7 linked regions of the Homo sapiens genome follow. The protein of the gene in region 6 purifies or fractionates together with the protein of the main gene of each other region. This does not show direct contact. Each region holds a gene or a part of one and is shown on either strand. Other genes may lie near its edges.

Region 1 (3,500 bases), on a different chromosome or scaffold from region 6:
GACATTTATATATGTGGAAAGAAGAAAACATTTGCTTTTAACAACAGAAGGTCCAAGCAGAAAGCATGAAAGTCAAGGACACAGAGCTGACTCATCCTGCAGCTTTTGAAAAAAACAAAAACACCCAAAAAACAAATTCCATGAATGGCAAGAAAGTTTTCCCAAGACAACCTCCTTTTGGTCTTCCTATCTCAAATGCCTTCCATACGGCCTGCCTCCAACCCATCAAGCTCATGCTCTGCTCCCACTCCTAGAACACCATGTCATCTTGCATGTGAAACAGCAAATAATGAAACCTGGTTTCTCCACGTGGGTATGATGTGGTGCTCCAACTGGAGGGGTCCTGAGGGCAAGATCCTCCCTCTGGCATGTCCACAGTTATAAAAAGACTAGAACTCCCTCCCAGGGCTCATTGGGTGAAAAAGGAAAGACATATTCTCAAAGATCACAGCAGTACCTACTCCTGCCTCTGACCTGTGTGATAGCCATTGTCTGAGGTATAGAAGATGTAAGTGTTGTTGAGCTCCCCAGTGAACTCCAGCCTCTTGACCAGTTTCTCCACAAGGTCATCAACTGAGAGGAGAGTTTGCCACCTGGATGTGAACAGAAGGTAGAAATGGGACTTCAGGGGCAATGGCTGAGGTATCACTATCTTGCCAAAAAAAAAAAAAACCAAAAACAAAAACAAAGACACCCCCGTTTAAAAAAAAAAATCCAAAACAACCCCCGTTTAAAAAAAAAAAATTGCAAAACACTCTCCCCCAAAACTCAAATCCCCAATCTCCATTCCCTAGACCTTCCCATTGTAAAAAACAGATTAGAAAATTCCAGAACATAATTAATTCATTCCAAAGTTAATTGTTTCCAAAGAAATAAACTCGTTTTTAAATAACCAGTTAGCTTTACTTTTTATTGGCAATAGTGATGAGAGTAGAGACAATCGGAAGGAAGAGTTGTCCATTCTCAGTACTGTGTATTACAGATTAATTCAGATAGGACTGTGCTACAAAAAAGCTTAAGATGTTTGAACTAGGAGCTGGCAAGCTATGACTCATGGGCCAAAGCTTGCCCACTGTCTGTTTTTATAAAGTTTTATTGGACCACAACCATGCTCATTCATTTACATGTTACCCAGGGCTGCTTTTGTGCTACAACAGCAGAGCTGAGTAGTTGTGACAGAATGTATGACCTGCAAGCCTATTAATATTTACTATCTGCCCCTTTACAGAAAAAGTTTGCTTATCCCTGGTCTACACTAAACACTTCCTAAGAGAAAGTAATGGATTTTTAAAAATTGACTTAAGAGAATTTCTTGAAAATTCCAAATGGCAAAGGCAGATATTTTGATCTTGTCTAAGCTTTTGGGTCATTTGTCACATATGACAATGGGCTCTCTCAACCAAGTCACCTTTTCTTTAAAGCAGGAGAAAAAATTCTACCACATGGTTCAAGTTTGCAAGACTTTTGCCAAGTCCTAAAAATGGGCAGTCTAATTAGTACTGGGGTCCAAATGCCACCTCATTCATTTGAGTGTAAAGGAATCTCTCTGCTTCTGGTGCCCCATCGAAGCCTCTCTCCCACTGACTTGCTTCCCTCTGTTTTTGTTTCAGAGACAACAATGTGGTGTGGTCTCCTCTTCATGAGCTGATTTGCAGGGTCTTTAAAACCACTCAGATTGTTATGTAGCAGCAGCTCTTACCTTTTCCTAAATGCATTATCTAAAAACTGTATTGAAGAATTAGTCATTGGAGTCTTGGCTTGCCTAATTAACCAGTGCTTGTTCTAAAATTTAGAAGAAAAAAAATGTTAACACCAAGTCACCACAGTCAAACAAACTACTGGATTACTACAGTAGATAATAAATAGAACCGTTTCACTCATACTTCAGCAAGAAGGAACTAACTGGAACTTGTTTAAGCAATTTCAGAACTTCTCTCCCTTCCTGTGTTCCTAAAATAGAAATTTCTGTAGATTAACTCAATCTCTCATTCTTCAGCTTCCCAGCACCTCCCAAACCATAAAAGGTCTTGGCTTCTCTGTTGGCAGTATTAAGAGATTTTAGAGGATGTCACTGGGAAACTACTAGCTAAAGCGAGATTACATTTACAACTCTGATCTTATGCCTTTGGTCTACTACAATTAGAAAATGGGCAAATAGGGCGTAGTGGCGGGCGCCTGTAGTCCCAGCTACTTGGGAGGCTGAGGCAGGAGAATGGCGTGAACCCGGGAGGCGGAGCTTGCAGTGAGCCGAGATCCCGCCACTGCACTCCAGCCTGGGCGACAGAGCGAGACTCCGTCTCAAAAAAAAAAAAAAAAAAGAAAATGGGCAAATAACTTTACCTTCCTCTAAGTTGCTTTTTTTGAGACAGAGGCGGAGGTTGCATTGAGCCGAGATCGCACTACTACACTCCAGCCCAAGCCCAAGCTGGAGTACAGTGGCACGATCTCGGCTCACTGCAACCTGTGCCTCCCGGGTTCATGCGATTTTCATGCCTCAGCCACCTGAGTAGCTGGGATTACAGGCGTGCACCAACATGCCTGTCTAATTTTTGTATTTTCAGTAGAGATGGGGTTTCATCATGTTCGCCAGGCTGGTCTTGAACTCCTGGCCTCAGGTGATCCTCTTGCCTTAGCCTCCCAAAGTGCTGGGATTACAAGCATAAGCCACCATACCTGGTCTACCTTCCTCTAAGTTTTGCCTAGCCAAGATATCGGTCACCCTAGATCCTAAGGAAAAATCTTATTACAGCAATTTCCTAAAACTTCAAGTCTAAATCTGGAGGGCCCTCCCATTTAAACAAAGACATCCCTATATACTATTCTCTCTTCTCTATTCGTAAAACCCTAAGCCACCAGATCTCAAACTATGCTCCTCAAAGTGTTATTAAGTTTGAGAAATGCTGTATAGCATATTCTCCTGCTAGAAATTCACATTCGATCATGAATAACTCTGAGAAGTCCTGTAGCAGAGTGACTTATTTAACTCAAACTTTCCAAACTTACTTGACCATGGGAACTTTTTATTAACTTCTTTTGGAACACAGATTGAGAATCGTCCTATTTTACTATTTTTTAATTTATTTTATTTTATTTTATCTTATCTTGTCTCATCTCATCTTATTTTATTTTATTTTGATGGAATCTTGCACTGTTTCCCAGGCTGGAGTGCAGTGGTGCGATCTCGGCTCACGGCAAGCTCCGCCTCCCGGGTTCACGCCATTCTCCTGCCTCAGCCTCCCGAGTAGCTGGGAGTACAGGTGTCCACCACCACGCCCGGCTAATTTTTTGTACTTTTAGTAGAGATGGGGTTTCACTGTGTTAGCCAGGATGGTCTCAATCTCCTGACCTCGTGATTCGCCCGCCTTGGCCTCCCAAAGTGCTGGGATTACAGGCATGAGCCACTGCGCCCGGCCAGTACTCTAATTTAAAACACAGTTCACTCAGCTTTGAAACTGTATTTAACAAGCACATGCCTATAATGTGCCAGACAATATGCTAAT
Region 2 (3,500 bases), on a different chromosome or scaffold from region 6:
TTGCACTTAGCTGGGTGTGGTGGCGGTCCCAGTTACTCACGAGGCTAAGGCAGGAGAAATCACTTGAACCCGGGAGGCGGAGGTTGCAGTGAGCCAAGATCACACCACTGCACTCCAGCCTGGCGACAGAGCAAGACTCCGTCTCAAAAAAGAAAAAAATACTCCAAACTCCATCAACAGTGGCTATCTCAGGGAAATGGAAATGGAAACTTCTTAAGGGCAGGAAACCTATCCATGTTCTATGGTCCTAGCACAGCACAGCACCTTGAATACAGCAGGCACTCAAATATGTCCTGAACCAATATGGTCACCACCACATTTCCTGATCACTCTGTGACAGTGGTCAAAATGTTGAGATTAGTGAAAAATAATTGGAAACAATCTGAAAGGTGAAAGTCTTCTTTTTCTTTTGAGATAGAGTCTCACTCTGTCACCCAGGCTGGAATGCAGTGAAATGATCACAGCTCACTGCAGCCTCAACCTCCTGGGCTCAAGAGGTCCTCCCGCCTCAGCCTCCCAAGTAGCTGGGACCACAGGCACACATTACCACTCCTAGCTAATTTTTAAATTATTTTGTAGAGAGGGAGTCTCACTATGTTGCTCAAACTTGTCTAAAACTCCTGGGCTCAAGAGATCCTCCCACCTCAACCTCACAAAATGCTGGGATTACAGGCATGAGCCACTGTGCCTGGCCCAAGGTGAAAGTCTTTTCATAGAAGAAAAGATAAACTTGTTGTATATTCCCATAGTTTTAAAAATACTCAGGTATCAATAAGTATCAAATATAATGTTGATTACACAAAGCCAAGTTACAAAAATATATGTGCTAGTATTTTTGTAAAACACTGAAACACAAACAAAGCTAAGTATTCTTTATGAATTTATATACACATAAAATCACAGAAATAAAAACTGAAAAGATCCACATCCACTTTAGGAGCACATTTTAACTATAGGGAGATGGGTAAATGGAATAAAGAGTTGCAGTCTTCGGCCAGGCGTGGTGGCTCACACCTGTAATCCCAGCACTTTGGGAGGCCGAGTTGGGAGGATCAGGAGGTCAGGAGATCGAGACCATCCTGGCCAACGGGTGAAACCCCGTCTCTACTAAAAACACAAAAAATTAGCCGGGCGTGGTGGCAGGCGCCTGTAGTCTCAGCTACTCAGGAGGCTGAGGCAGGAGAATGGCGTGAACCCAGGAGGCGGAGCCTGCAGTGAGCCGAGATGCACCACTGCACTCCAGCCGGGGTGACAGAGTGAGACTTCATCTCAAAAAAAAAAAAAAGAGTTGCAGTCTTCATCTACACCTGTAATGTACCTTTTGTAACTTTAAAGGATTTTCAGTAATTTTTTTTAAATGTTAACTTTTGTCAAATCTGGGTGGTAGACATATGAGAGTAATGTTCATCTCTGCTATATTCTAAATGTTTGCAATATTCCAGAATTTCAAACCGTAAGATTTTTAACATAGCAACAAGTTTCTTAGGATATTTTTTTTTTGAAGACAGACTTTCACTCTGTCACCCAGGCTGGAGTACAGTGGCGTGATCTTGGCTCACTGCAGCCTCCGCCTCCCAGGTTCAAATGATTCTTCCACCTCAGCCTCCTGAGTAGCTGGGATTACAGGTGTGCACCACCACACCCAGCTAATTTCTTGTATTTTTAGAAGAGATGGGGTTTCACCATGCTGTCCAAGCTGGTCTCGAACTCCTGACCTCAGGTGATCCAACTGCCTCAGCCTCCCAAAAGTCCTGGGATTAAAGGCATGAGCCACCACGCCTGGCAGGATGGTTTCTTATAATGTTCCTCCAAACAGAGGGGCTGCATAAATTCAAAGTATCTTTCAGTAAAAGCAATGTTATCAAAGGTCAAAATAATGTGGTCTACATAAACATCTTCATTCAAGTACAGTTTAGTACAAAGGAATGAATTAGATTTCATATCCATCAATATACTCTCCATAAACTGCCTTCTGAGTTTTGACAGGCATTTATGCAGCAAGCAATTAGAAGACACACTCTCCAACTACATCTGGAGACACAATCCTGAATAAAAAGCCACTACATCTCTGCACAAAGCCACAACTTATTACTCATACTACAACTCACTACTTATTTCTAATTACTATCACTGACTGGTAAAATCTCTCTGAACAATCATCTTTTAATTGATGCTTGCATTCCTGTCTATATAGAAAATAAAATCTGAGAGTACAATATGGTGTCTTCTCCCTTTAAGAAAAATAATAGACACTGATCTATTTTCATGGCTTCTGGAATAAAGCCCAGACTCCTAATGCACTCACATTTGCTCCTAGACAAAATGTCTCAAAAGAGAACTTTAAATCACTTGCAAAACTTTGAAATGACTTGACTTTTTTCTCTATTCATGATTACTTTTTTTGCTCAAATGATTTCTAATGTTCAGAGTATGTTGTTTTAGAAAGAATGCTGGGCTAAGAATTAGAACACCTGGATTCTAATTCTATTTGTGCCACCAAACGTGTTGCCTAAATCACATTCCACTCCAAGTTTTCTTATTATAAAATTAAACAGTACAAATAAATCAGTTTGATCTATGTTAGAGTTCCAGGGTTCTATGCATATAAAATTTCTGCTTATTGGTTTTATATATTAGTAGTCTACATATAATTTACTTTAGAAAGAAAAGGGCTCAGCTGCTTTCATAAAATTTAAAACTACTTTCTTAGGTAATCAAAATTTATTCCAGATACAAGATTCTGGTTTTCAGTTTACTTTTCCATTTCAGAGTCTTGGCCACTACAATTTTATTCTTAGGCTGAAGACTGAATTATTTATACCTCTCAGACAGACATTCTACTTGCCAACTATTCAAAATGGCCACAAAGGTCATCTCCTTAAAAATGTTTAACTTTTAAATTATATCCAGTAGGAAAAAAGGCTGATTAGTCCTAGTTGAAATTAATTTTAATATTTAGGTCAAAAGTAGTCCCTAAAGGCCAGGTGCAGTGGCTCACGCCTGTAATCCCAGCACTTTGGGAGGCCGAGGTGGATGGATTACCTGAGGTCGGGAGTTCGAGACCAGCCTGATCAACATGGAGAAACCCCGTCTCTACTAAAAATACAAAATCAGCCAGGCATGGTGATGCATGCCTGTAATCCCAGCTACTCGGGAGGCTGAGGCTAGAGAATGGCTTGAACCTGGGAGGCGGAGGATGCAGTGAGCTGAGATTGTGCCATTGCATGCCAGCTTGGGGAACAAGGGCGAAACTCCATCTCAAAAAAAAAAAAAGTAGTCCCTAAGAAACGTACTTTCTATGGTTATAATTAACAGAAAATCAGTGTGTTAAATTTAAAAGAAAAGCTGGAATTCAACCGGCTTATGCTTACATAAAATAAAAATGAAGAGTAAAAATGAGGAAACAATGAGAAGCACCCCAAGTAAATGTGAGACATCTGAAGTTCTATCACAAGACTGGGTTAATAAAACTCTCGCTAACAACTTAACAGGAGAACTTA
Region 3 (3,500 bases), on a different chromosome or scaffold from region 6:
CTCCTGGCAACCACTAAGCTGCTTTCGGTCTCTCTGGATTTGCCTACCCTGGGTATTTCATATAAATGGAAACATAGTATGTGGCCCTTTGTGATTGGCTCCATTCACTAAGCATAGTCTTTTAAGGTTCATCCACATTGTAGCATATGTCAGTGCTTTATTCCTTATTTTTTTAACCAAATAAAATTCAGGTGCTATCTGTTAGGAAAGTCTTATCGTTAAAGGTTGGTAATTTCTGAGAACCAAGTTTAGATTTATGTTCTGCAGTTTTTAACAGTCTTGAGGCAGTCTTTAATTCAGTTGCTGTGTGAATAATTTCATCTTTTTCTTTGGAAGAGACACCTGTGCATAGCAGATCATCTTCACCTATTCCTCTGACTCCTAGCAAGGAAGGGAGTGCTGTGTTTGCTGGCTTTGAAGGGAGAAGAACTAATGAAATAAACGAGGTAAAGAATGTTTGATGTTTGTTCCCAATGGTTCCTTTATTTGTGATTACTTCAATTCTATAGGTGGAAGTCAAGGTTCTTAAAGCATCATGTTGCTGCTATTACTGTAAACATTATCAAAATTGTACGTAATTTTATGCTTAACACTGTGGGTTTTGGTTTCTAAAGTGAGAAAATTGTTAGGATTCCAGCCCTACACTGACAATCATCTTTTAAATAAGTGCAATTATTGAAATACCAGTATTTTTACTTTATAGAACAGATGTCAATTTCCACAGAGGGCCAGAGGGTAAATACTTTCGGCTTTGTGGGCCATATGGTGTCTGTCAAGGCTACTTAACTCCAAAAGTAGCCACAGATAGTATGTAAATAAAATGAGTGTGCTATATTCCAATAAAACTTGATTTATGGACACTGAAATTTGACTAGCATTTAATTTTCATGTGTTTGAAAATTTTTTTTGTTTTTCAATCATTTAAAAATATAACATCCACTCTTAGCTTGTGGGCAATATAGAAACAGGCAGTAGTTGGGCGGGATGTGACCAGCAGGCTGTAGTTTGCTGACTCCTACTTTAAATCCCTGATTCCCCTCCATCATTAACAGTAATACCAATAGCCGTCCCTTCAGGGATGGGCTCTAGGCCACCACTGTGCCAGACACTTGAACCAAATACTTTGAATTCTCGAGATCAGCCTTGCCACCAGATTTCCACTTGATAGATGGGAAAACTTTTCATTTTAAAACTATTTTTAAGGCCCATTAGGTGATCTGTAGGTGGTGAGTTTGTCAGGGATTCTGAAGACGTCTCAGTTTATCAGCATATTCTGTGAACGTCTCCTAGGAGGTGAGATTTCCTCTTTTTTTAAGGTGAGTAGGAGTTGCACAAGGGAAAATGGCTTTGCTAGGCAAAGAACATTTTTTTCTTTTTTTGACACAGGGTCTCACTCTCATGCTGTCACCCAGGCTGCAGTGCAGTGGCAGGATGTTAGCTCACTGCAGCCTCTGCCTCCTGGGCTCAGGCGATCCTCCCACCTCAGCCTCCTGAGTAGCTGGAACTACAGGCTCATGCCACCATGGCCTGGCTAATTTTTGCATTTTTTTGTAGAGACTAAGTTTTGCCATGTTGCCCAGCCTGGTCACCAACTCCTGAGCTCAAGTGATCCTCCCGCCTCTGCCTCCCAAAGTGCTGGGGTTACAGGCATGAGCCACTGTGCCCAGCCTAGGCAAAGAGCACTTGATGATGGGAAGAGAAGTCACAAAACTTTCTTCCAGACGATAACTGTCTTCAGTAGTGTGTACCCTAAGGTCTCTTGAGAGACTGCTCAACTCTGCTGTTCCAGCAGGAAAGCCCTAAACAAAGGGACGTGGCTCTGCCATAAACAAAGGGGTGTGGCTCTGTGTGCTGCCCCCTTAATTCATTCATGGACACTGAGAATTTAATGTCATGTGATTTTCACATATCACAAAATATTATTCGTATGATTTTTTTTCCCCAACCATTTTGAACATATGAGCATGGGGCTGGATTTGGCCTAGGGGCTACAGTTGGCTGACCCCATAGAGAATCTAGAAAGCCTAATTTGTGTTATGATGATTGTTGAGGGTAGGTTAGGAAATCCCTAGTTCAAGCAGTCCCTGACATGCCCATTTTTCAGATAAGAATGCACTACGAATTTTATTATTGAGGGGAAATCGTGAATTTAAGGGGCATCTGAGTTGTCAAGTAAGGGCTATTCCCACTCCGGTCTGCAGTGCGAATGCGCCATCTAGTGGTTATAGGTACAGCTGCAACTTATAGTTTGAAAGTGCTTTCTGGGAAATGGTTGGGGTTCAGGCGGCTCTCACAAGGACTCATGAGACCTTCGTGGATTCCCACCTTCTTACGTACGTCTACCACCGTGTTTTTTGACCAGGGCTCTTTCTCTCAGTTCCAATCGCTGCTCCACAGTACTAGGGGCTGGTCTGGGCCAGCACATGCCAGTAAAGGTCCATCAATGATTCCCATGCATACCCCACTGGGAATCCCCCGACTAGAAACCTACCATTTTTCCCCGGAAAATGTGTCTTCATAAATAGAAGATTATAAACTGCCTTGAAACACAGAATTGAGTGAGTGAGATAGAGCCAGATGACCTGCTTTTGTACGTGCCAAGTGCTGTTCATGCCTCTGAGATTGCAAAGTCCTGTATGTTTCCTTTGAGTCACTTTCAGAATGGTTCCAAAGCTTCAGCTGTGTGCACTGGGCAGGTGCTGGGGATGCTGTAAAGATGCTGGAACGATCCCTTCCCTCAGTGCTCCACAGTGCAGAAGTGGGGCGCTGGGGGTGGAGACCTAGGCGAGAGTCTAGGCCTGTCTAGGCAGGGGCCAAAGTGAAGCTAGGCCTTTGTTCTGGATCCTTCAGGGCCACCTTGGTGCTTATTAGCTTCTGGCAGTTCCATGTTGTTAAACTGACTATATCAGTGTTTCTGAGTTTGTGGGGGCATCTTTCTTTCTGCTTTGTCTGCTGGTGGACTTCCTCCAGTCTGACTGTTTCCATATTGAATATGACGTCCCAAAAGCCAAAGTAGCAGCTCAGTAGAGTAGGCTCTGGTTCTATAATTTGCTGAAGTACTTTTACGGAAATTCATCAGAGAGTTTTGAAATGCAACTCTCCCTTTAACAAAAGCCCCAGGTCCACCCACAGTTCTGAAATTCAGAATGAAGACAAATCAGTTATCAGGTTTGAAGTCTATTTCAGTTGATTCAAGGGGTTAAAAGATTCAAATTCGTTTCCATAATGAATCTAACAGCAAGAAATTAAGGAATCTTGAAACAACAGTAATATTATTCAGAACATCTATGGATTACTTTTTAATGCTTCATTCTCTCTCTAGTGCAGCAGGATTTTCTTTTTTCTGGGTGGAGGGGAAGGGGGCCAGAGTTTCACTCTTGTTGCCCAGGCTGGAGTGCAGTGGCACAACCTTGGTTCACTGTAACCTCTGCCTCCTTGGTTCAGGTGATTCTCCTGCCTCAGCCTCCCAAGTAGCTGGGATTACAGGCGTCCACCACCAC
Region 4 (3,500 bases), on a different chromosome or scaffold from region 6:
CTGAGTTGATGCCATTCTCTTGCCTCAGCCTCCTGAGTAGCTGGGACTACAGGCGCCTGCCACAGCACCCAGCTAATTTTTTGTATTTTTAGTAGAGACGGGGTTTCACTGTGGTCTCGATCTCCTGACCTCGTGATCTGCCCGTCTCGGCCTCCCAAAGTGCTGGGATTACAGGTGTGAGCCACCGCACCCGGCCAATTATCCCATTTTACAGATGAGAAAGCTGAGGCATAGAGGGTTAAAGTAACTTGAGCAAGGTCTTTCAACAATGACAGATCTGAAATTTGAGTGCATCTGATTTAGTTCCAGAGATTATGCTCTTTACCATCTTACGGACTTTTCTTGTAGTCTTTAGTATTACGGACTTTTAATTGAAATTTCTGATTAAGATCATTTATGTTCCTTGAGTTATTTATGTATTCACTATTATTTCTTCAAGATTATCCATTTTTTTTTCACCTGAGTCTTACCTCACCTTTTATCTTACCCTGACAGGAGACTGTTGGGCAGAGTACTTGATTTTTAAATGTGGTCTTTTGGGGCTTGTGTACTTGCAGTGTCCTGACGTTCGTTTGAATATCATCTCCAATTTGGATTGTGTAAATGAAGTGATTGGAATCCGTCAGCTCTCTCAGTCTCTCCTTCCTGCCATAGTGGAGCTGGCAGAAGATGCCAAATGGAGGGTCCGCCTGGCCATCATTGAGTATATGCCGCTGCTGGCAGGCCAGCTGGTGAGTATGTGTTGCTCCATGAACTGCAGGGTAGTGTCAGATAGTGACAATTTACCATGGCAAGTAGGAGGCCTAGTAGCCTGTATGCTTATGTTTGTTTAGATGCATGAAAGTATGGCCTTGTTCTTGTTACCTATAGGATGGTTTTTATGTTTGTTAGTGCATACGTTTCTTTTCTTTTAAGATGGAGTTTCACTGTTGTTGCCCAGGCTGGAGTGCAATGATGCAATCTTGGCTCACTGCAACCTCCACCTCCTGGGTTTAAGCGATTCTCCTGTCTCAGCCTCCCAAGTAGCTGGGATTACAGGAATATGCCACCACACCCAGCTAATTTTGTATTTTTAATAGAGATGGGGTTTTACCATGTTGGTCAGGCTGGTCTTGAATTCCTGACCTCAGGTGATTCACCCGCCTCAGCCTCCCAAAGTGCTGGGATTCCAGGCGTGAGCCACTGCATCTGGCCTATTAGTGCATACATTTCTAACAAAAAGGTATAGGTTGAGTATCCCTCATCTAAATACGCTTGGGACCAGCATGTTTGGGACCAGAAGTGGATTTTGGAATATTTGCATTATAAATATTTACTGGTTGAGCAGCCCAAATTCAAAAATGCAAAGTCCAGAATGCTCCAATGAGCATTTCCTTTGAGCATCATATCAGTGCTCAAAAAGTTTTGGATTTTGGAGCATTTCACATTTTGGATTTTTGGATTTGGGATGCTTAATCTGTATTACAGAAACATATTTCACCTCATCACCACCGAAAAACAAAGCCATAGAATAATCAGTTTCTTGGTATATATAATGTAAATTTTATAATATTTAATGCCTTTGTGACTTAAGAAATGTTTAACTGAGAAGAAAAGGGATTATGGTTTTAGGGTAAGTCTGCTGTGATTTTTGCTCAAGGAAACTTCCCTGTTTGCCTTGTATTCTAAGCAAAATGTCCCTAGGTACCACTTGCCCTACATTCTGATTAAAGGGAGTTGAGGAATCACCATATAGAAAAGAAGTATTGAAAGGCCGGGCACAGTGGCTGACACCTGTAAACCCAGCACTTTGGGAGCCAGAGGCAGGCGAATCACTTGAGGCTAGGAGTTCCAGACCAGCCTGGCCAACATGGTGAAACCCCATCTCTACTAAAAATACAAAAATTAGCTGGGCACGGAGGTGCACACCTGTAATACCAGCTACTCGGGAGGCTGAGGCAGGAGAATCGCTTGAACCCAGGAGGCGAAGGCTGCAGTGAGCCAAGATTGCACTACTGCACTGCAGCCTGGGCAACAGAGTAAAACTTTGTGTCAAAAAAAAAAAAACAAAACAAAAACAAAAACTGAAGCTTGTAATGTTAGTATTTTGGTCAAAGTCCACATTATCACATTATCTGTTACTGTTTGAGTTTCGTGATCAGTGTTACCCTAACTAATACCATGTTAGTTAAAATTTCAAAGCTGGGTTTTATAGCCACATCCTTTCCTTTTTTTGAGTAGGTGGCCTAGACAGTTCTAAGTTTGATGTACCTTCATCTCTGTTGGTAGCACTTATTACAGAGTATTGTAATTGTCTGTTACAGTCTAGTTGGAGAGATGGGTGATCTCTTTTAGGGCAGGGACTGTATTTTATTTCCAGTCCCTACCATAGTGCCCGTCATTAATTAGGCACTTAACATTTTTTATTTTGGGGGCAGGGTCTTGCTGTTGCCCAGGCTGGTCTTGAACTCATGGCCTCAAATGATCCTCCTGCCTCGGCCTCCTGAGTAGCTGATAATAGGCATGAGCCACTGTGTATAGCCAACATTTGTTGATTGTTGAGTATTTTTTGAGAAAGATGTGTCAGTTTACTATTGACATCGCTACAGTTTGTTTCCCCTTCCTCACTCCCACTTCCATTCCTTTCAGGTCACAACATATGGAATTTATTTTTTCTTGTCTTGAACCCCTGAATTTGTATTTTTAATTTTAGTACATTTAGTTTATGAACATGCAATTTGTGGATGTCTGTGGCATTATATGTTTTATAAAATTGAAAGTGTCCGATTCTTTGAAAAGTATACCAGAGGTATTAGTGCATGGCAAATGGGATCAGGTGAAGTTATTTTGTCATCCTTTTTGTCTGTCACTCCCAAGTGCTATGGGTCATCTTCTCTTCACTGGTGATTGTCATGGATCTACTTTTCAGAGTGGAGAGGAGCAGTGATTAACTGATTTGCTGAAGACCAAAACTATCTGGAAGGGAGGGTGCATTTTAGTACCATTTCTTTTAACCTCTGCTCCTTCTAGACCTGGAAAGTTTCCCAGGGTTGCTAGCTCTATAGAGAGCAGTGTGAAAGCAAGGCAGATGGTGTCTTTGGCTGACTTACACCTGTCTGGCAGGGGTGACATGCCTCAGTCATGAACATTTTGCTTTACAATTTTAACTTCTTGTTAGTATATATATTCTCCTTAATTTCTCTTCATATCTAAATATTTTTATATCAGATAGTCATTTTATAAAATTCTCTCAAGACTTTATGTATGACCTGGCTTGTGGACGATGTTAAGTAAGTGTAAAGTTAAACTACAAAAACCGGAAAATAGGCCAGGCGTAGTGGCTCACGCTTGTAATCCCAGCACTTTGGGAGGCCTAGGTGGGTGGATCACCTGAGGTCAGGAGTTTGAGCCCAGCCTGACCAACATGGTGAAACCCCATCTCTACTATACAAAAAATTTAGCCGGGTGTGGTGGTGGGTGCCTGTTACTTGGGAGGCTTCTTGGGAGGCTGAGGCAGGAGA
Region 5 (3,500 bases), on a different chromosome or scaffold from region 6:
TGCCATATTGCCACCTTCTAAATAGTCTGTACATCAGCAGTGTACAAAGGTAGTGGTTTTTGTGTGACCTCAGCATTGGGCATTACTATTTTCAACACGGGTCTGCACCTGGCCCTTTTTAAGGCTTTGAGGAGATGGGATTCAGGAACTTGTGGGGTAGGCTAGGGGAGTTTGAAGCAGGGAGAACAGTTCTGTGCTTGGGGTACCCAGGAAGGAGAGTTGGGTAGCTGAAGTGAGGAGGCCATCAAACAGCCTTTACCTGCTTTTGAAATTTGCCGAAAGCAGCCCTCATCATGCCTGGCAAGAGGCATCCAGGAGAGCATTCAGAATTCACAGTGCTGCCTCAGCAGAAAAGTTTTATAATTTCCTTGAGTCAAGATCAGAATTATAGGCAGCAGCATTTCTTCCTTTGCAAAAGACTTCTCAGGTCTGTATTTAAGTGCATCTGTTTTAAAAATTCTGTTCTAAAGGCTGATGTCTTTCACTGAGAGTGATTCCTCTTGGGGCCAGCTCTATGGAGCTGACCTCCTGGCTCCTTGGCCTTAGGAACTGTAGCACACCCCTGGGAAATGCTGGAGTGCAGTCAGCCCACCGCCCAGTGGTGCAGGAGCTCGGAAGGGGGATCCTAAGCCCTAGGCTTCCTTGCTCTGTGCCACTGACATGCTGGGTTATGCTGGACAGATCACTTTCTATCTCTGCCCCTTGGTCTCCCCTTCCATGAAATCTGAATTACAGTGTGTTTTGCCCACTGAGCTATTGAGTCCAATAGCTTTTCATATGTGAAAGTGCTTTCCAAATTATAACGTGTTGCACAGGTCATCTGTACAGCATCTATTGGTTTTGCCTCCTTACAGTGTTGCAAATACATCACCCCCCAGATCCTATTGTGGGTTACTCTCATCTCTAGCTTAGGTTAGTGTGGCAGCCTCCAGACTTACTCTTTCAGTACAAAATACAGACCTCAGCTTGACATTGCCTTGCCCAAAGCCCTTGAGTGGGCCCCTCAGTCCTCTTGGTTCTGGCCTTGCATTCTACTTTGTCCTTCCCTGCACCCGGGCCTTGGGTCTATGAACTGCTTATTTCTCCCTGAGCGATGATTCCACTCTTTGTCCCACTGTCTGCCTCTCACCTGCCCATTGTGCTGCCTGGCATTTCTTTCCCTCCTTCTTACCATAGGTCAGTCACAATCAGTCTTAAAACATAAGGTTTTAAAACGGGTATTAGCCTTTGGGAAGCCAAGTTGGGGGTAGTGCCCCTCACCTGAGCCCCAACAGCCTGTGTTTCCCTCCCTTGTCCTTGATCACACTAAAATAAAATTGCTTATTTACTTTTCTGCTGAGAGTTTTTCTAGGGAATGGACTGGGCCTGGTCACTCTGTCTCCCTGGTGTCCCACAAAGGTGGGCTTGGCAGGACAGAGGCCCAGTGAAGATTTGAAGGAATGCTGTGTGTGTATGGATAAGTGAATGTGAGGGGCTTGACTGTATTCTCTTTCAGTTCTCTCTTGAATGCTGACAACAGTGAAACTAACAGTTCTCGTGTTTTGCATTTTGTAGATGGTGACAAATATCCCATGGAAAGTGATAATTCATTTGATCTGTTTGATTCCTCCCAGGCAGTGACACCAAAATCAGGTACAAAGCTGAAGTCCAGGTAACTGTGGGAGCATTGGATGTGACAGTAAGACTTTTTAACTTGCAGAAAAGGGGGGTCCCTGGTCCCAACTCAGGAGGGTATTTGGTAAGGATTTGGGATTTCAAGTTCTCAGCATCCCCAGCTGGTGATCTTCTCCTTCAAGCCAGTTAATCCACTCCTAGGTGTTACCAAGGTTAGAACATCATTGGGTCCCTCTTGCCTTAGATTAAAATTGTGACCACCTTTGTGAGGCTTTCAAGGCCCTCCAGGATCCAGCTCCAGTGGGTCCGTCCAGCCTTATCCCTTAACCTGGTGTAGCCACACAGGGGTCACCATCCTGCAGACAGGCCCACACTTTCCTCTCACTGTGACTTTTAGACCCCCTTTGTCCCACTCTTTGCCGGTAGAAGTCCCGTTTCCTCAAGACTCATCATGAATACACATTTCTCTGTGACATGCCTTTGCTGCTGTCCTTGGTCAGAATGACTCATCATTCGTGTAATTCTTGCTACTTGCTCAATCCAGTTCAAATGCTGCTCCTTCTCAGAAGCCTTCCCTGTTCTCTCCCTCCCTGCACAGATAATTGTTTTTTCTGGCTCTGGCCCTTCATCACTCTGCTGTTGCACCTTCTGCAGTGTCTGTGTTCTGATCAGACTGTGGGCTACTGGAATGCAGGCACCAGCTTGAGTCATCCTTGTGAATCTGGGGTCTTCTGCCGAGTGGGTGGTTGATAAGTGTTGGTTGAGTTGACTTGAGCCTCTCCTACAAGATGACTCATAAGCCCAGTGTGGGGTAATATACAGAGGTCCAGGAGCGTGCCTCTTTTCCCCTCTGGGCTTGTGTTGGGTGGCATTTGGGCACGAGGGCCTCTTCTAGCCCTCCTAGCTAGCTTCAACATCATAAGCGTCTTGAACGCAGAGTGTTACCTGAAACAGATTTTACATCCTACTTCTCATTTTACAGTTTCAGAGACTCCTCCACTCTCTGGGAATGACACGGACTCCCTCTCCTGCGACAGTGGCAGTTCGGCAACTAGCACTCCGTGTGTGTCCCGCCTGGTCACTGGCCACCACCTGTGGGCCAGCAAGAATGGCCGCCATGTCCTGGGCCTGATTGAGGACTATGAGGCCCTGCTCAAACAGATCAGCCAGGGACAGAGGCTCCTTGCTGAAATGGACATTCAAACCCAAGAGGCTCCCAGCTCCACAAGTCAAGAGCTGGGAACAAAGGTAACCTGACCACAGAGCTGGGGGGCACAAGCTGCTCCCTGGGAGTGTCGGTGGAAGGGGGAGGGGAGTCAAATGGCGCAGTTGTCCTCATTAGGACCCTGAGAAGAGGGACCAGGAAGTGTGGCCTCAGAGAGCTCAGAGGTCAGGTCCAGTGTGGGGAACTATTGGTGGTGGCTGTGTTTGGTGGGGTTTGTGCCTTGTGTTCCTGCAACTGCTCCATGGGCTCTGCTGTCTTGTTCCCATGACGGCCTCTGTACATCTGGTCTCTCATCCATTCTTCTCTCCATCTGCACCCTGGTGTGTCTGTCCATTCATCTGCCCATCCACCTGGCTGTCGCCCATTATGAAGTGGAATTACTAGTTCAAAGGTTGTGAACTTTTTAGGGCTCTTGATGATAACTGTTGCTCCATTACTTTGCAAAACAATTCTATCTCTGTTCATGAACGTTTGTCTCACTACATTTTTGTTTTTGTTGAGGTTTTGTTGTTGTTGTGTTTTTTTTATTTTGAGACAGGATCTAGCTCTGTCACCCAGGCTGGAGTGCAGTGGCGCGATCATGGCTCACTGTAGCTTCGACCCCACCTCCTAGGCTCAAGCAATCCTCCTGCCTCAGCCTCCCAAGTAGCTGTGACCACAG
Region 6 (3,500 bases):
CGAAAACCTGCATTTTCATTTCGTTCACAAGAGAATTATGAGACTAGAAAAACAACAATTCTTAGTATACCACAGACTGTGGTGCCTAGGAATAACAGACAAGCTTTAACTCACACGATGAGCATCTTTATTTAGCTCTGCTTTTAGATATCTGCATGATAAAGATGAGTGATCCAACGTTAGAAATCATCTGGACATTAAAACTGAATTGTAGGCAGGCGTGGTGGCTCACACCTGTAATCCCAGCACTTACGGAGACCAAGGCGGGCAGATTGCTTGAGCTCAGGAGTTTGTGAGACTAGCCTGGGCAACATAGTAAGACCCCTATCTCTACAAAAAATATAAAAATTAGCTAGGCATCATGGCCTGTGCCTGTAGTCCTAGCTATTGAGGAAACTGATGCAGGAGGATCATTTGAGCTCAGGAGTTTGAGACCATTCTGGGCAATACGGTGAAACCCTGTCTCTACAAAAAAATGCAAAGATTAGCTAGGCATGATGGCACATGCCTGTGGTCCCAGCTACTCGGGAGGCTGAGGCAGGAGGATTGCAGGAGGTTTGCTTGAGCCGGGGAGGTCGAGTCTGCAGTGAACTGAGATTGCATCACTGCACTACAGCCTGGGTGACAGAGTAAGACCCTATCTCAAAAAAAAGAACTAATTGTAACAAACTATCTTTCAAATTATATCAAAACAGTGATTCATAAATTCCATGTTGCCCAGAGATCATGAGGAGCTCTTCTATGATTTGACAGTGCAATTACTGAAGGGGAAGACACCATGCAAATACATGGTAAAAATATTCAAATTATTACTGATTTGACACAAAATATTGATGTAAATAACATAAAACTGTAATATGCCATTATGATGACATTAATGAAAAATTGGTTAATGAATGTCATTGAAAGAGCATGTACATCACTAAATGTTCTTAGTCACTGAAAGTGTGAAATAGCCTCTAAACTCATATGTGGAAAAAGAACTTGAAAAAGGTTTCCAGAAATGTGACAATTCTAGTACTTTCATGACATTTTAAAAAAGGGATTGTAAAGACTGATGAAACCCTTAAAACCTCTCAAGAATTAAAAATCATTTTTGATCAACAGAGTAAACTGATTTTTTATCTCTGTTGAAAGATATTTTTAAAATCATTGTCCTATGGAAAAGTCATATAGAACGTTTGCTGTTTAATGTAGCACAGATGTATCAAAAAGCCATGCCAGGCAGTTATAGATATCTTAGTTTTCTGGATTTTGTGACGTTTGTGGTATTTGTCAGATTTTTAAAATTTGTGATTTGTTGGGATTTGTTCCTCATTCACAGGTAATTTTATATACTTTTGTATTCACTTTCGAAAAGAAGGCAACTCTAAATTTTATGAACTTCAAGTGCTATAAAACAATTACCACAGTAAATTTTGAAAAATTCACCCCAAAAAGAAACCTTGTATCCATTGGCAGTAACTCCCTATGCTCCGCCATTCCTCTCAGCTCCCTGTCTGGCAACCACTTCCTGTCTCTTCAGAGTTGCCTCTTCTGGACATTACATATAAACGGAATTATACACTATGTGGCCTTTTATGACTGGCTTCTTTCACTTAGCATAATGTTTTCAAGAGTCATCTGTGTTGTAGCATTTGTCAGTACTTCATTTATTTTTGTTTCCTAACAATACTCCATTGTAGGGATTGACCACACTTTATCCATTCATTGGTTGATGGACATTTGGGTTGTTTCCACTTTTTCTGCTGTTGTGAATAACAGTGCTAAGCACATTCATATGCAGTGTTTGTGTAGATATATAATATGCTTTATTTTCTCTTGAGTACATAAAAGTGGAGCCTCTGAGTAATATAATAACTCTATGTTTGGTGTTTTGAAGAATTGCTAAATTGTTTTCCAAAGCAGCTGCACCATTTTATATCCCTACCAGCAATGCATGAAGCTTCCAGTTTCTCCACATCATCACGAATACTCCTTATTCTCTCTCTTTTTAGATATAGACATTCTGGCAGGTGTGACATTGTATCTCTTGTGGTTTAGATTTGCATTTGGAGCATGTCTTATGTGCACTTAAAAATATTAATATCTATTCTGCTGTTGTTGGGTAAACTGTTCTATAGATGTTGATATGGCTTCGCTGTGTCCCCACTCAAAATCTCATCTTGACTTGTAATCCCCATAATCTCCATGTGTCAAGGGTGGGACCAGGTGGAGGTAATTGGATCATGAGGGTGGTTTTCCCTACTCTGTTTTCATGATAGTGAGTCTCACAAGGTCTGATGGTTTTATAAGCATCTGGCATTTCCCCTGCTTGCACTCAGGCTGTCCTGCCACACTGTGAAGAAGGTGCCTTGCTTCTCCTTTGCCTTCTGCCATGAGTGTAAGTTTCATGAGGCCTCCCCAGCCATGCTGAACTGTGAGTCAATTAAACCTCTTTCCTTTATAAATTACCAAGCTGCGGCTATTTCTTCATAGCAGTGTGAGAACGGACTAATACAGGTGTTTTTTAGGTCTTGTTATTGTGTCGTTCACGTCTTTTATTTCCTTGTTGATCTTACTCTTAGTTGTTCTATCCATCATTGAAAATGGGGCATTGGCCAGGCGTGGTGGCTCACGCCTGTAATCCCAGCACTTTGGGAGGCCAAGACCAGCAGATCACTTGAGGTCAGGGGTTCGAGACCAGCGTGGCTAACATGGAGAACTCCTGTCTCTACTAAAAATACAAAAATTAGTCAGGTGTGGCAGTGCGTGCCCGCCTATAGTCCCATCTACTTGGGAGGCTGAGGCAGGGGAATTGCTTGAACCCTGGAGTCAGAGTTTGCAGTGAGCTGAGATCATGCCACTGCGCTCCAGTCTGGGTGACAGAGTGAGACTCAAAAAAGAAAAAAAAAAAAAAAAAAAAAAAGAAAGAAAATGAGACATTGGATTTGTAAGTTTCTGACAGGTTCATTTTGCCTGCTGCCCAGATAGAGCCGATTTATGAGGACAGGGAAATTGCAATAGAGAAAGAGTTTAATACATGTAGAACTGGCTAAACAAGAGACTGGAGTTTTATTATTACTCAAATCAGCCTCCACAAAAATTTGGAGGCTAGGTCTTTTCAAAGATAGTTTGGTGGGCAGGGGTTTGTGTACTAAGAAACTAAATGTTTCTTGTGTACTAAGTCAGCTTCTGGGTGGGGGCCAGAGGACCAGTTGAGCCAAGAATTCAAGAGGTACAGGTTCAAGTAGGGCCATCTGGTTGTCAGAAATGCAAAAGCCTGGAAAGTCATCTCAAATGTTAGGTTCTACAATAGTCAAGTTATTTATAGTAATTGGGAAAGTTGCAAATCTTGTGACCTCTGTAGAAAATAGGTGGTAATCTTTACACCTATATCTTAGTAGAATTCAGGCCCCTCACTTCCTCCTAACCTGGTAGCCTTTCATTAGTTTTACAAAGGCAGTTTAATTTTGGGGGGCAGGGCTATTATCATCTAAACTATAAACTATAATCGTTTG
Region 7 (3,500 bases), on a different chromosome or scaffold from region 6:
GTTCAAGCGATTCTGCTGCCTCAGCCTCCCGAGTAGCTGGGATTACAGGCATGCACCAATGCACCACCATGCCCGGCTAATTTTTGTATTTTTAGTAGAGACAGGGTTTCATCATGTTGGCCAGCCTGGTCTCGAACACCTGACCTCAGGTGATCTGCCTGCCTCGGCCTCCCAAAGTGCTGGGATTACAGGCATGAGCCACGCGCCCAGCCTGTCAAACTTATTTGACCACAACCCATAGCAAGAAACATTTTACCTTGTGCTCAAATACACATATCTGTAGGCAAAACAAAATAGAAAAAGGAAAATACAATCTGGTGGAACAGCCCCTCCCCTTAACTTGCAGGGGAATGTGGCCTGGAGCAGCTTTTCTGAGGTAGGATTGGCCAGCTCCATCAGAGTTTGTTTGTTCTGATGCATAATAGATATACATAGTTTCAGGGCACATGTGATAATTTAATACATCATATAATTTGTAAAGATTAAATCAGTATTTGCGATAGCCATCACCTTAAATATTTGTTTTCTTTTTAAATGCTGAATCTTTTGAATTCTTCTAGCTGTTTTGAAATGCACAATAGTTAATGGTGAACTCTAGTCACCCTACCAGGTCTTATTTCTTCTATCAAACAGTATATTTGTATCCATTAATCAACATATTTTCATCCCCCCTTCCAACGTACAGAGATGGGCAGTCCAATAGGGAGGTTTATTAAACAAACACAAATTAAGTCACATTCATATAATGGGATACTTTGTAAATATCTTAAAAGATAAAACATTCAATTACAGTTACTAATATGAAAAATTTTTTTTCAAAAGCTGAACACGGCCAGGCGGCCAGGCGCAGTGGCCCTTGCCTGTAATCCCAGCACTCTGGGAGCATGAGGCAGGAGGATTGCTTGAGCTCAGGAGCTCGAAATCAGCCTGTGCAATTTGTCTCAAACAAACAAACAATAGCAAAAGAGCTGAACACAAACTAGTAGATGACATGATACCATTTCTGAAATAAAATATTCATATATGGACACATCATCTATAAACTGCATTTCAAACAATTTTTATACTAAGATCTTAATAGTGATTATTTCTGGGTGACAGTTGAGTGCTGTTTTTACTTCTGTACGTCTTTATATTTAAAAGAATGAGCATCCCATATATACATAAATATATATATAAATCCCACATATAAATATATACATAAATCCCATATAAAAATATAAATATATATATATATATATACACACACACACACACACACACACACACATATATATATATTTTTTTTTTCCTGAGACAGAGTCTTGCTCTGTCACCCAGGCTGGACTGTGATGGTGTGATCTCGGCTCACTGCAACCTCCACCTCCCGGGTTCAAGTGATTCCTGTGCTTCAGCCTCCTGAGTAGCTGGAATTACAGGCACACACCACCATGCCCAGCTACTTTTTGTATTTTTAGTACAGACAGGGCTTTGCTGTGTTGGCCAGGCTGGTCTCGAACTTCTGGCCTCAAGTTATCCGGCTGCCTCAGCCTCCCGAAATCCGGGGATTACAGGCATAAGTCATTGCGCCTGGCTCCTTATATGATTTTAAAACGGCAGGATATAAGGAGCAATGGAATGAAGCCAGTGGGACTGCAGAAGGCAGGTGGAAGCAGACAGGGAACTTTGGAGCTAGAGTGACTTGAAGGACGCTTGATGGATATAATTGTAAGAGTCCTGTCTCAGGAGAGCTGATGCGCTGTAAATGTTGTAAATAGAACATTTTCTTAAAGAACCTTCCACTGCTATGTTTAGTATTCAGTTTAGCAAACTTTTCCTGGGTAGCTACTGGGAGTCCCGCACAGTGTTAGGAGTTGGGGTACACACCTGCCATGTTGGTGGAAATCCTGAAGGGAGTGGGCCACACACCCTGGAAGAAGGGGCTTTCCTGAGGAAGGACAGCCTGACTATGCAGGGGTCATTCCACATTACCAGAGCTTGTTCCAGAGAGGCAGTGGGAGGCTCCACAGGCAGGCTTGGAGGGTGCTTGGCCCTAATACTAAATGTTGGACTTCATGGCATTAACGAAGGGGAATCACTGGAGCCTTTTAGTATGAAGCTAATCTTTTTGTCCATCACAGGCAACTTCTTGCCTACACTCTTTTACAATATGGCATTTATGACATAGCCAAGAGCGAAGACACGTTGAACACTGACTTAATGCTTTGAGTAGGTGGAGAGTTGAATGACTCAAGGCTACTTCTCTAGAGATTAATTTGAAGCTAGAAAGTAACATTTATTTCTGTTTTCTGTGACAGCAATAGGCTTCAGCTTGTAATCGTCATCTGCAAGTAGGTACTTGACACCTCCCCTAAGTGACCTGGAGAGTGACAGATACAGTAATGGGCACAATCCTTGGTTTTTTGTTTTGTTTTGTTTTTGAGACAGAGTCTCACTCTGTCATCCAGGCTGGAGTGCAGTGGTACGATCTCACTCACCAGGGATTTGGCCACCACGCCTGGCCGAATCCCTGGTTTTAAGCAAAATTTTAATATGGAGTTTATGGTTGTTGGTATAATGAAATGCGGCACCATAGCAGTTGATTTTTGTCTTTCAGAACCACACTGGCTTTTTGTATTATTTCAAATTTGATAGATGCCCAATGTATGTAACAAAAATTTTCCCTCACGTGTATTTCTTTCTTTATTTATTTGTATGTTTTGAGATGGGGTCTCACTCTGTCGCCCAGGCTGAAGTGCAGTGGTGCTATCTCGGCTCACTGCAACCTCCACCTCCCAGGCCCAAGCCATCCTCTCACCTCAGTACTGGGTAGCTAGGATTACAGGCCCCGCCACCAGGCCTGCGTAATTTTTTTGTTTTTTGGGAGGCCAAGGCAGGAGGATAATTTGAGCTCAGGAGTTTGAGACCAGGCTGTAACCCCAGGCAGGAGTACAGTGGTGCAGTCATAGCTCACTGCACCCTTGACCTCCTGGGCTCAAGCCATCTTCCCACTTCAGCCTCCAAGTAGCTGGGACTACAGGTGTGTGCCACTATGCCTGGCTTATTTTTTGTAGAGATGGGGTTTGGCCATGTTGGCCAGCCTGGTGTCAAACTCCTAAGCTCAAGGGATCCACCTGCCTCAGCCTCCCAAAGTGCTGTGCTGGGATTACAGGCGTGAGCCACCACACCCAGCCCAAGTATATTTATCGAGTGCTGTATGTCATGATAGTGGGTGGTTTGGGGGAATACCAACATAAATAAGTGGGAGGTTTCTATCCTAGAGGAGTTTATTGTGCTCTGTTCTCTCTGGATTGTTCACAAACCAGAATGCCGATCAAAGACTTTGCTAGGGTTGTGGGTGGGCGACTTGCTCAGGAGATCCCTGGCACCCAAATGAGTGCCCAGAAATCACTCTGAATGGTCAAAAGTAAGGCAGGGCAGGGCGGTAGAGCACAGGGTGTCGAATTAATTTCATGTGGGGGCTGAAATCCCAGGTCTGTCCCTTCCTAACTGTGGGCTGC

What was found.
Region 1: the proteins of CEP43 (region 6) and GNS purify together in Homo sapiens (affinity purification with mass spectrometry; one large-scale study listed by BioGRID and IntAct). This does not show direct contact.
Region 2: the proteins of CEP43 (region 6) and ESCO1 purify together in Homo sapiens (affinity purification with mass spectrometry; one large-scale study listed by BioGRID and IntAct). This does not show direct contact.
Region 3: the proteins of CEP43 (region 6) and MSL3 purify together in Homo sapiens (affinity purification with mass spectrometry; 4 studies listed by BioGRID and IntAct, with this or other methods). This does not show direct contact.
Region 4: the proteins of CEP43 (region 6) and PPP2R1B purify together in Homo sapiens (co-immunoprecipitation; 2 studies listed by BioGRID and IntAct, with this or other methods). This does not show direct contact.
Region 5: the proteins of CEP43 (region 6) and CDK5RAP2 purify together in Homo sapiens (co-immunoprecipitation; 2 studies listed by BioGRID and IntAct, with this or other methods). This does not show direct contact.
Region 7: the proteins of CEP43 (region 6) and LYN purify together in Homo sapiens (affinity purification with mass spectrometry; 2 studies listed by BioGRID and IntAct, with this or other methods). This does not show direct contact.

What each region holds. Positions count from the first base shown.
Region 1 is NC_000012.12:64,738,907-64,742,406, forward strand, and holds part of GNS (N-acetylglucosamine-6-sulfatase precursor), read right to left. Parts: intron 1,783-3,500; coding exon 1,700-1,782; intron 594-1,699; coding exon 475-593; intron 1-474. UniProt on the Homo sapiens protein: Hydrolyzes 6-sulfate groups in N-acetyl-d-glucosaminide units of heparin sulfate and keratan sulfate.
Region 2 is NC_000018.10:21,569,705-21,573,204, forward strand, and holds part of ESCO1 (N-acetyltransferase ESCO1), read right to left. Parts: intron 1-3,500. UniProt on the Homo sapiens protein: Acetyltransferase required for the establishment of sister chromatid cohesion. Couples the processes of cohesion and DNA replication to ensure that only sister chromatids become paired together.
Region 3 is NC_000023.11:11,768,237-11,771,736, forward strand, and holds part of MSL3 (MSL complex subunit 3), read left to right. Parts: intron 1-336; coding exon 337-446; intron 447-3,500. UniProt on the Homo sapiens protein: Non-catalytic component of the MSL histone acetyltransferase complex, a multiprotein complex that mediates the majority of histone H4 acetylation at 'Lys-16' (H4K16ac), an epigenetic mark that prevents chromatin compaction.
Region 4 is NC_000011.10:111,749,390-111,752,889, reverse strand, and holds part of PPP2R1B (serine/threonine-protein phosphatase 2A 65 kDa regulatory subunit A beta isoform), read left to right. Parts: intron 1-557; coding exon 558-731; intron 732-3,500. UniProt on the Homo sapiens protein: The PR65 subunit of protein phosphatase 2A serves as a scaffolding molecule to coordinate the assembly of the catalytic subunit and a variable regulatory B subunit.
Region 5 is NC_000009.12:120,402,168-120,405,667, reverse strand, and holds part of CDK5RAP2 (CDK5 regulatory subunit-associated protein 2), read left to right. Parts: intron 1-1,554; coding exon 1,555-1,632; intron 1,633-2,596; coding exon 2,597-2,862; intron 2,863-3,500. UniProt on the Homo sapiens protein: Potential regulator of CDK5 activity via its interaction with CDK5R1. Negative regulator of centriole disengagement (licensing) which maintains centriole engagement and cohesion. Involved in regulation of mitotic spindle orientation.
Region 6 is NC_000006.12:167,047,897-167,051,396, forward strand, and holds part of CEP43 (centrosomal protein 43), read left to right. Parts: 3' UTR 1-3,500. UniProt on the Homo sapiens protein: Required for anchoring microtubules to the centrosomes. Required for ciliation.
Region 7 is NC_000008.11:55,886,335-55,889,834, forward strand, and holds part of LYN (tyrosine-protein kinase Lyn), read left to right. Parts: intron 1-3,500. UniProt on the Homo sapiens protein: Non-receptor tyrosine-protein kinase that transmits signals from cell surface receptors and plays an important role in the regulation of innate and adaptive immune responses, hematopoiesis, responses to growth factors and cytokines, integrin signaling, but also responses to DNA damage and genotoxic agents.